2 linked regions of the Homo sapiens genome follow. The protein of the gene in region 1 interacts with the protein of each later gene in a pairwise test. Each region holds a gene or a part of one and is shown in the gene's direction. Other genes may lie near its edges.

What was found.
Region 2: the proteins of GRAMD4 (region 1) and RBL2 interact in a two-hybrid assay, tested with the Homo sapiens proteins (one study listed by BioGRID).

Annotation. Positions count from the first base shown.
Region 1 is NC_000022.11:46,675,786-46,679,597, forward strand, and holds part of GRAMD4 (GRAM domain-containing protein 4), read left to right. Parts: intron 1-814; coding exon 815-883; intron 884-1,361; coding exon 1,362-1,466; 3' UTR 1,467-1,790; coding exon of another isoform or gene 1,791-1,892; 3' UTR 1,893-3,812. UniProt on the Homo sapiens protein: Plays a role as a mediator of E2F1-induced apoptosis in the absence of p53/TP53. Plays a role as a mediator of E2F1-induced apoptosis in the absence of p53/TP53. Inhibits TLR9 response to nucelic acids and regulates TLR9-mediated innate immune response.
Region 2 is NC_000016.10:53,465,471-53,469,282, forward strand, and holds part of RBL2 (retinoblastoma-like protein 2), read left to right. Parts: coding exon 1-132; intron 133-1,587; coding exon 1,588-1,699; intron 1,700-3,812. UniProt on the Homo sapiens protein: Key regulator of entry into cell division. Directly involved in heterochromatin formation by maintaining overall chromatin structure and, in particular, that of constitutive heterochromatin by stabilizing histone methylation.

The DNA of each region.
Region 1 (3,812 bases):
TGGAGCCCAGGAGGTCAGGACCCAAGCCCCACTCTGGCTGCTGTGTTCCCCTCGTATCTGGGACCCTCCCCATAAAGAAAAGCACAGGGGCCCTGAGCCCCTGCCTCGGATGCAGGTTTTCAGGTGGGAGCTCAGATGGTCGCGCCCGCTCTGGGCATTTTCTCAGCATTTTACCGTAGCATGGAATGAGCAGGTGGGCGTGGCCACAAGTGCCTGTGGTCCCTTGTTTTCTGGGGCAGGGAAGGCTCAGTGAGGCACTGGCAGGCACACTTGGCCCGAGTGGTCAGGGCCCCCAGCTCCCTCCCAGCTCCGAGCGTCCTGGGCATGTCCGCATTGGCACGGCGGGCACTCCCGGCCCCACGGCAGTTGTGGGTCATCTCTCCCACCCGGCTCTGGAAAAAAGCGTGCAGTCAGGTGACCAGAAGGGGTGAGTTCAGGGCTGGGGTCCTTTCCGCCTGCCTCTTGGGATTGGCGGTGCTGACAGATGGCCCTCCTGGTGCCAGGCCCTGAGAGCGAGTTCTGGGGCTGAGTGCCTACCGTCAGCCTCCTCAGGCCGGCTTGTCTCTGACCTTCCTCAGGCCAGCTGGCCGACGGTCTGGGCTGGGGTGGGACAGACCCTTTACAGGTCTGGTGTCTCGGCCACAAAGTGAGGAGGTGTCCACAGGCCCTTACCTTCTGTTGTTTGGAAGTCCCAGGTGCCCGTGGGCCCTGCTGCCTGTGTGCCCAGTGGAGGAGGATGCCCTGGGCCTGTGGAGGGCTGTGCCTCCCTGTCCCCAGGAGAGACCTGTGGTGACGGCCACGCTTTGCCTTTCAGTACAAGGTCCTGTCTGTCCTCCCAGGCTCAGGCATGGGGATTGCCGTGTCGACGCCATCCACCCAGAAAGTAGGTGCCGGGCGGGGGGCCGCCAAGGGGTTGGTGTGGGCCCAGGGGCCTGACTCTGAGCAACCCTGGGACCAGCGTGGGGCAGACAGCCAGAGTTTTAGTTTGGGCAGCAGGGTCACAAAGCCGCCCCCTCCCTCGCAGCAGCTAGAGCCTGGGGCTGCGTCCAGGTTGGGTTGGAAATCTTGCTGGGGCCATCGAGTCACCGGACAGACAGGGATGTTGGGCACAGGGGTCCCCTGACTCAGTGACTTGGGAGGAGGGAGGCACGGGGCTAAAGCCTGGCTCCCCTCTGCCTCTTGGCTCTGTTCCCCTGAAGGCTGGAGCCTGGCTCCGGGTGGTGGGGAGACACCTGTCTTTTGCACCCAGACCCACGTGACTAGCGTGCTGGCCTGGGGCTGGTGTTGGACTTCGTCTCGGTCCTGGTCCTGGCGCCAGCCTGGCTGTGCCATGCTCACTGGTGGCATTTCTTCCCTGCCAGCCGCTCGTGTTTGGTGCCATGGTGCACAGGGATGAGGCCTTCGAGACCATTCTCAGCCAGTACATCAAGATCACCTCAGCGGCAGCGTCTGGCGGGGACAGCTAGTATTGACTTGCCCAGGACGTTGCTGGAATTTTCTTTTTCTTTTTCTTTTTCTTTTTTTTTTTTTACGATTTGGTAGTGGAAACAATTGGACATCCTCATGAGCTTTTGCAATAATTCTCCTGGACCTGTGGTTCTATTGTGTTGACCTCTGCGTTTTATCGACCAAGAAGGGGCCAGGGCTCACAGGGACGGGGGTGCCCCTCTCCCACAGGGCACGTCAGGTGCCTCTGAGGGCCACCCGCAGACTGGGGGAGGGGGCAGAGGCCCTCGGGGGCCCGTGGAGAAGACACACAGGACCCCTGGCCCTGCCCTTCTCCGTTCCAGCCTGGACAGAGAAACCTCTCCAGCCACCCCAAGAGGTTCTCGCAACCTTGTGTCCCGCTCTCCAGAGGCCAGAAGCTCGTCCACCACCAAAGCCATAGCTGAAGAGTGCGGGGCCCTTCCTCCTGGGGACAGAAAGATGTCGTCAAGGAGGGACATGGGGGCCTTTCACCAACCACCGAGAAACGGGCCTGGCGGCCCTCCTTCCTCTTACATGAGACCCTCCTGTGGCATTTGCCCTTGGTGCCGGGCTGGGGCCGGGCGCAGTGACCCTGCCTGCGCTCCACACTCGCTCCACGGGAACAGAGAGGGTGAGAAGGGCCCACCCCTCGCCTGCCCTCAGTGTCTTTGGTGGCACCTTCCTTGCTGGCCTCCAGGGCGCTCAGCACCGCGTCTGTAAGGGCCTGCCTGCTGCTCTCGGCCTGACACGCCGGCCAGGAGGTCTGTAGCTGGGGACCAGTAAGGGCACAGGATGGTGCAGGTAAAAGCACATCTTTCTCACACTTTGCTCTTTGGAAGGCCCAGGAGAACATCCGCGAAGGCTGTTGGAGGTGCTCCGAGCACTGTGGCATGTCTGGCACATGGCCCCCAGGCTGCGGTTGCCTGGGTTGGTTGGGGGAGGAAGTGGGGAGGAGTGTTCCGGGACCATGGTGGCCCAGGCTGCAGCCGCCTTTGGGCCATCCGAGAGGCTCTGGCAGCCCCTGTGCTTTAGGGAGCAACCGTGAGCCGAGCCCAGAGGCCTGGGCCTGCACTGCCTGCAGCCGACATGCGACAGCGTTCCCTCCCCCGCGTGCCTAGCCGGTGCCGGTCCGGGCACAGACCCCCCCAGCCCCCGCCCTGCCCCAGGGAAGCCTGGGCTTCCCGGGAACAAGGTGGCATTTGTGGAGGGAGCGCCCGCAGGCCTGGTCTGCTGGGGCCGCCTGCGCTGGGCTGAAGGGAGGGAAAGGCGGCTTGGGCCTCCTGGAAGGAGGTGGCCACCCCGCGGGCCTGCGTGTCTGCTGGGGCGGATCCCGCAGCTCCCTCAGCTTGTCCTGAGTCCCTTGGGTGTCGTTGAGATTGTTGTTTTTTGAAGAAACAGAAGATTCTATTTTTTACAGCGAGCAAGCTGGTTTTCTTATTTTTGTATCCTTTTTCAGATGTAATTTTTATCTTTGCTCCGATCCTCATTTGCTGGTGTGGGTGAGGGATCCGGCGGCATGGGCTGGTTTCACCCCCTTCACGAGGGGCCGCAGAGTCACACGCTGGTGCCGGGGGTGCTTTGGGGGGAGCTGCGCCGATCACCAGATTAAGCACATGTCCTATCCCAGGCGGTGGAGCGGAGCCCCCGTGGCTCTGGACTGCGCGGACGTTGGCGTCAGGATGACCACACGGCGGCCTTTCCCGAATGGGGACAGAACCCGCTCTGAGCCGTGGGTCTGGCTCCTGTAGGGGACTGGCTCTCTTGGTGCACCAGGGGAGGGGGACATATCCCAGTGAACCCCACCTTGGCGCCTGAGGCAACACAGGGTGGGCACTGACCCACCCCCAGGGGCGGCTGCAGAGGCAGTGCCCGCAGACAATGGCCACACCTCTCTCCCCAGGGCCCGGCAGTGCCCAAGGATGGGTCCGGGGCCTCGGGGCCAATGAGCGCCTCTTCCTAGGTGCTGGGATTCAGTCCCCAAACACAGCGGGAGGGGTCCCTGGGGCAGATGGGGCTTTACCAGCGTCGGGTGGTTTAGTTCGAGTCCCTTTTGTGGAGAAAGGGAGATGAAAACTGACCACGTGCCAGGTGTGGCCGAAGCCCCCAGGGAGGGCCACATTCGGGGAGCGGGGGGTCGGGGGAGGGCCACCGACTGGCTCTGCTGCCAGCACAGGCCCCTCCCTGGAAGTCCTCGGGAGCGGAGCGCGGATCGGCACGGGCTCTGGGCTCCCCGTGGAGAGAAGCTGTAGTTTTTACCAAATTGTGTACATCTGGGCAGATGTTTAATTTCTGTGACTAATCACTGAACTAGACGAATGTTAAATTTTTTATGTCTGAAGCCTGAG
Region 2 (3,812 bases), on another chromosome or scaffold:
CTTTGTAGAGAGGTGGTAAAACACCTTAATCAGATTGAAGAACAGATCTTAGATCATTTGGCATGGAAACCAGAGTCTCCACTCTGGGAAAAAATTAGAGACAATGAAAACAGAGTTCCTACATGTGAAGAGGTTTGTGAAAATAACATCTTTTTATGAGAAAAATACATCAATATCTAATCTATTAATAATCCTTTTGGGGATGGGAGGGTGGCAATTAGGTTTAATATGTTATAATTACACCTTGTTATGAGAAAAATCTTGGACTGTAACGTCCCTCTCTACCCACAAATTGGGAAGGTGCCAAGAGACCAAAGAATGACTCAGACAAGTCCAGCTTGGTAAGTAGATAACGTTTATTAAGACTTACATATGGAGGAGGCAGAGGTGGTGGGGAAAAATAAAAGACTTATATACAGGGTACTCCTAGGTAGCAGCAGGACAGCTCTAGAGATCCTCGCCACCTCCCATCGCTAAGCTGCTTTTAAGCTAATTTTCTGGCTCTTTGCCTACTATGTGTGTGCACGATGGGACTGTTTTCCTTGGTAGTTTCTCAGATCTTCTCTGGGATGTTGGGGTTCTCAGGGACACCTGTTCCTTGGCTGGGCACCATGGCCTTGGCTCACTGCCTAGCCTTCAGGGTTTAGGCAGCAGACATACACCCTTAAGTAAGGTAGGTGACCTGTCACATTTCACCCCATGTCAAAGAGGAAACGAGTCAGATAATTTGTGGTTGTCCTAAGATTTTGGTGACAGAGTAAAAATTCAGTGTTCTTTCTTGATTTCCTTACCAAGTTTCTTTCCCATAGAGCAGTGGTCCAACCTTTTTGGCACCAAGGACCAGTTTCATGGAAGACAATTTTTCCATGGACAGGGTTGGGGGTTGGAGAGATTTTGGGATGATTCAACTGCCTTACATTTATTGCACACTTTATTTCTATTATTATTACGTGGTAATATATAATGAAATAATTATACAACTCACCAAAATGTAGAGTCAGTGGGAGCCCTGAGCTTGTTTTCCTGCAACTAGATGGTCCCATCTGGGGGCGGTGGGAGACAGTGACAGATCAGCAGGCATTAGATTCTCATAAGGAGCATGCAACCTAGATCCCTTATGTGTGCAGTTCACAATAGGGTTCACACTCCTGTGAGAATCTAATGCCACCACTAATCTGACAGGAGGCCAGCACAGGCGGCAATGTGAGCGATGGGGAGCAGCTTTAAATACAGATGAAGCTTTGCTCGCATGCTCACTTGCCTGCTGCTCACCTCCTGCTATGTTGCCCAGTTCCTAACAGGGTCCATGGCCCAGGGGTTGGGGACTCCTGCTTTAGAGTGGTTGATATTCAAACTCTCCAAACCAGTAATGAAGTTTGACTCATATTTAGTATCCAATTACAAGGTTTTGAATTTTTTGACTGCCAAAAGTTTTTTTTTTAACTTTATTATTAAAATGGGAAAGACAGCTGATTTTATTTAGATGGAATAATTGTTAAGATACTTTTTCTGCCTTAGATTACTATTGTATTTGTAATTAAAGTGCTTTTTTGGATACTGGCATTCTGTGTAACCAATTCTTCATAGGTCATGCCACCTCAGAACCTGGAAAGGGCAGATGAAATTTGCATTGCTGGCTCCCCTTTGACTCCCAGAAGGGTGACTGAAGTTCGTGCTGATACTGGAGGACTTGGAAGGAGTAAGTTTAAAATACTAGGAGAATATTTTGGGGCTTACTATCTGGAAATTTAAATTTCATCTAACCCTACAAGTGAAGTTAATAGGGTATACATAGAAGAAAATATTCTATGCATTTTTGTACCACATGGATCACTTAAAAGAAGGGCCTTTAAAGACTAAGAACACAGGAAAATGCATGATATAACAGGTATCTTTTAAAAAGGATAGACTGCTTTATTTATTTATTTATTTATTGAGACAGAGTCTTGCTCTGTCACTCAAGCTGGAGTGCAGTGGCCCAATCTCAGCTCACTGCAACCTCTGCCTGCCGGGTTCAAGCGATTCTCATGCCTCAGCCTCCTGAGTAGCTGGGACTACAGGCATGCGCCACCACGCCTAGCTAATTTTTGTATTTTTAGTAGAGAAGGGGTTTTGCCATATTGGCCAGGCTGGCCTTGAACTCCTGACCTCAAGTGATCCGCCTACCTCGTTCTCCCAAAGTGCTGGAATTACAGGCATGAGGCACCGTGCCCGGCTGACTGCTGTATATTTAATATGATCCCTATTTTTAAAGTGTATGTTTATTTATGAGCATACAAAATAGTGGAAATGGAAAAACCAAACTGTTAAGATCATTGTTGGGTGATAGAATTCCTGGTGATTTCTGTAAAATTTTTAAGGCAAATACATATTACTTTTAAAATCAGAAATAGAAAAGCCTTCTTAAAGATAGAGCTGCATGATCCAGTTAGGTATAGACAAGCCAGTGAGTTAAGACAACTGAGTATGTTCCACTTTGTTGAGCTGTGCTACCCTAGTTAATGTGACATTAGTGCTGGCCCAAGAAATACAGAAAAGGGCAGTTTTGCTATCTATCTGGTTTGTATTTTTTAGGCAGCTGCTTAGAAGATCTGCAAGGTGAAAGGTTTTAGTTTACATATGTGAGATAGAACTACTTTTTTAAAGAGCAATTCAGTAAATCCAGAGAGTTCTAAATCCTTGGATCCAATTAAAAGAATATTCTTATTTCTAGATCAGTTTTATAATGTAATTGATAAGAACTGGCTATAGAAGGAATACCAGTTTTAAAGTCAGGATTCACTCTAGGCTGGGCATGGTGGCTCATGCCTGTAATCCCAGCACTGTGGGAGACCTAGTGGGGAGGATCACTTGAGCCCCGGAGTTCAAGACCATCCTGGGCAACATAGCAAGATACCATCTCTACCCCCAACCCCCCCAAAAAAATCACTCTAAGTGTATACTTAATACACATGGATGATCCTTATGAAAAGTCCTCATTTTTGAAAGATCTGACAGCTGGTCTTTCTTAGTCTATTTTTGTAGAATTTTCCGTTCCCTAATCTACAGATTAGGAAGACTTGACTTTAAACTTCATTTTCTTTGTACTTACCACTTCTCAGTTTTCCTGAGATCTCTTGATATTTTATAAGAAAAAATGATCATAATCTATTCTTTCTGATTCTGCAGCTTTGTACCAAATACAAATCTAGTAAGTTTATTTACTTTTGTATCATCTGGAAATAGAAATGTTAAGCCACAGTTTGTTAGGATTTACTCCTATCAGTACTTCTTACAAACTTTCTATGTATATTTTAAATTTTAAAAACACTCTGATGCACAGCTCTTAGAAGTGGACACAGAAGAAGGAAGAAATGCTTCTCAAAAATTCAGACATTGGTGTGAATACTTAAAAATAGACTAAGCCATAATGGGTTGTGTACCACTGAATCATACACTTAAAAATGGTTGAATGGTAAATTTTATGTTATATATATAACCACAATTTTAAAAAACTAGCCTGTAATACCAGCATTTTGGGAGGCCAAGGCGGGTGGATCACCTGAGGTCAGGAGTTCGAGACCAGCCTGGCCAACATGGTGAGACCTCATCTCTACTAAAAATACAAAAATTAGCCATGCCTTGTGGCATATGCCTCTAATCCCAGTTACTTGGGAGGCTGAGGCACAAGAATCACTTAAACCCAGGAGGCAGAGGTTGTAGTGAGCCGAGATCAGGCTACTGCACTCCAGCCTGGGTGATAGAGTAAGACTCTGTCTCAAAAAATAAAAAAAATAGTAACAATTTGCCCCAAACCATTGAATTGTATAATT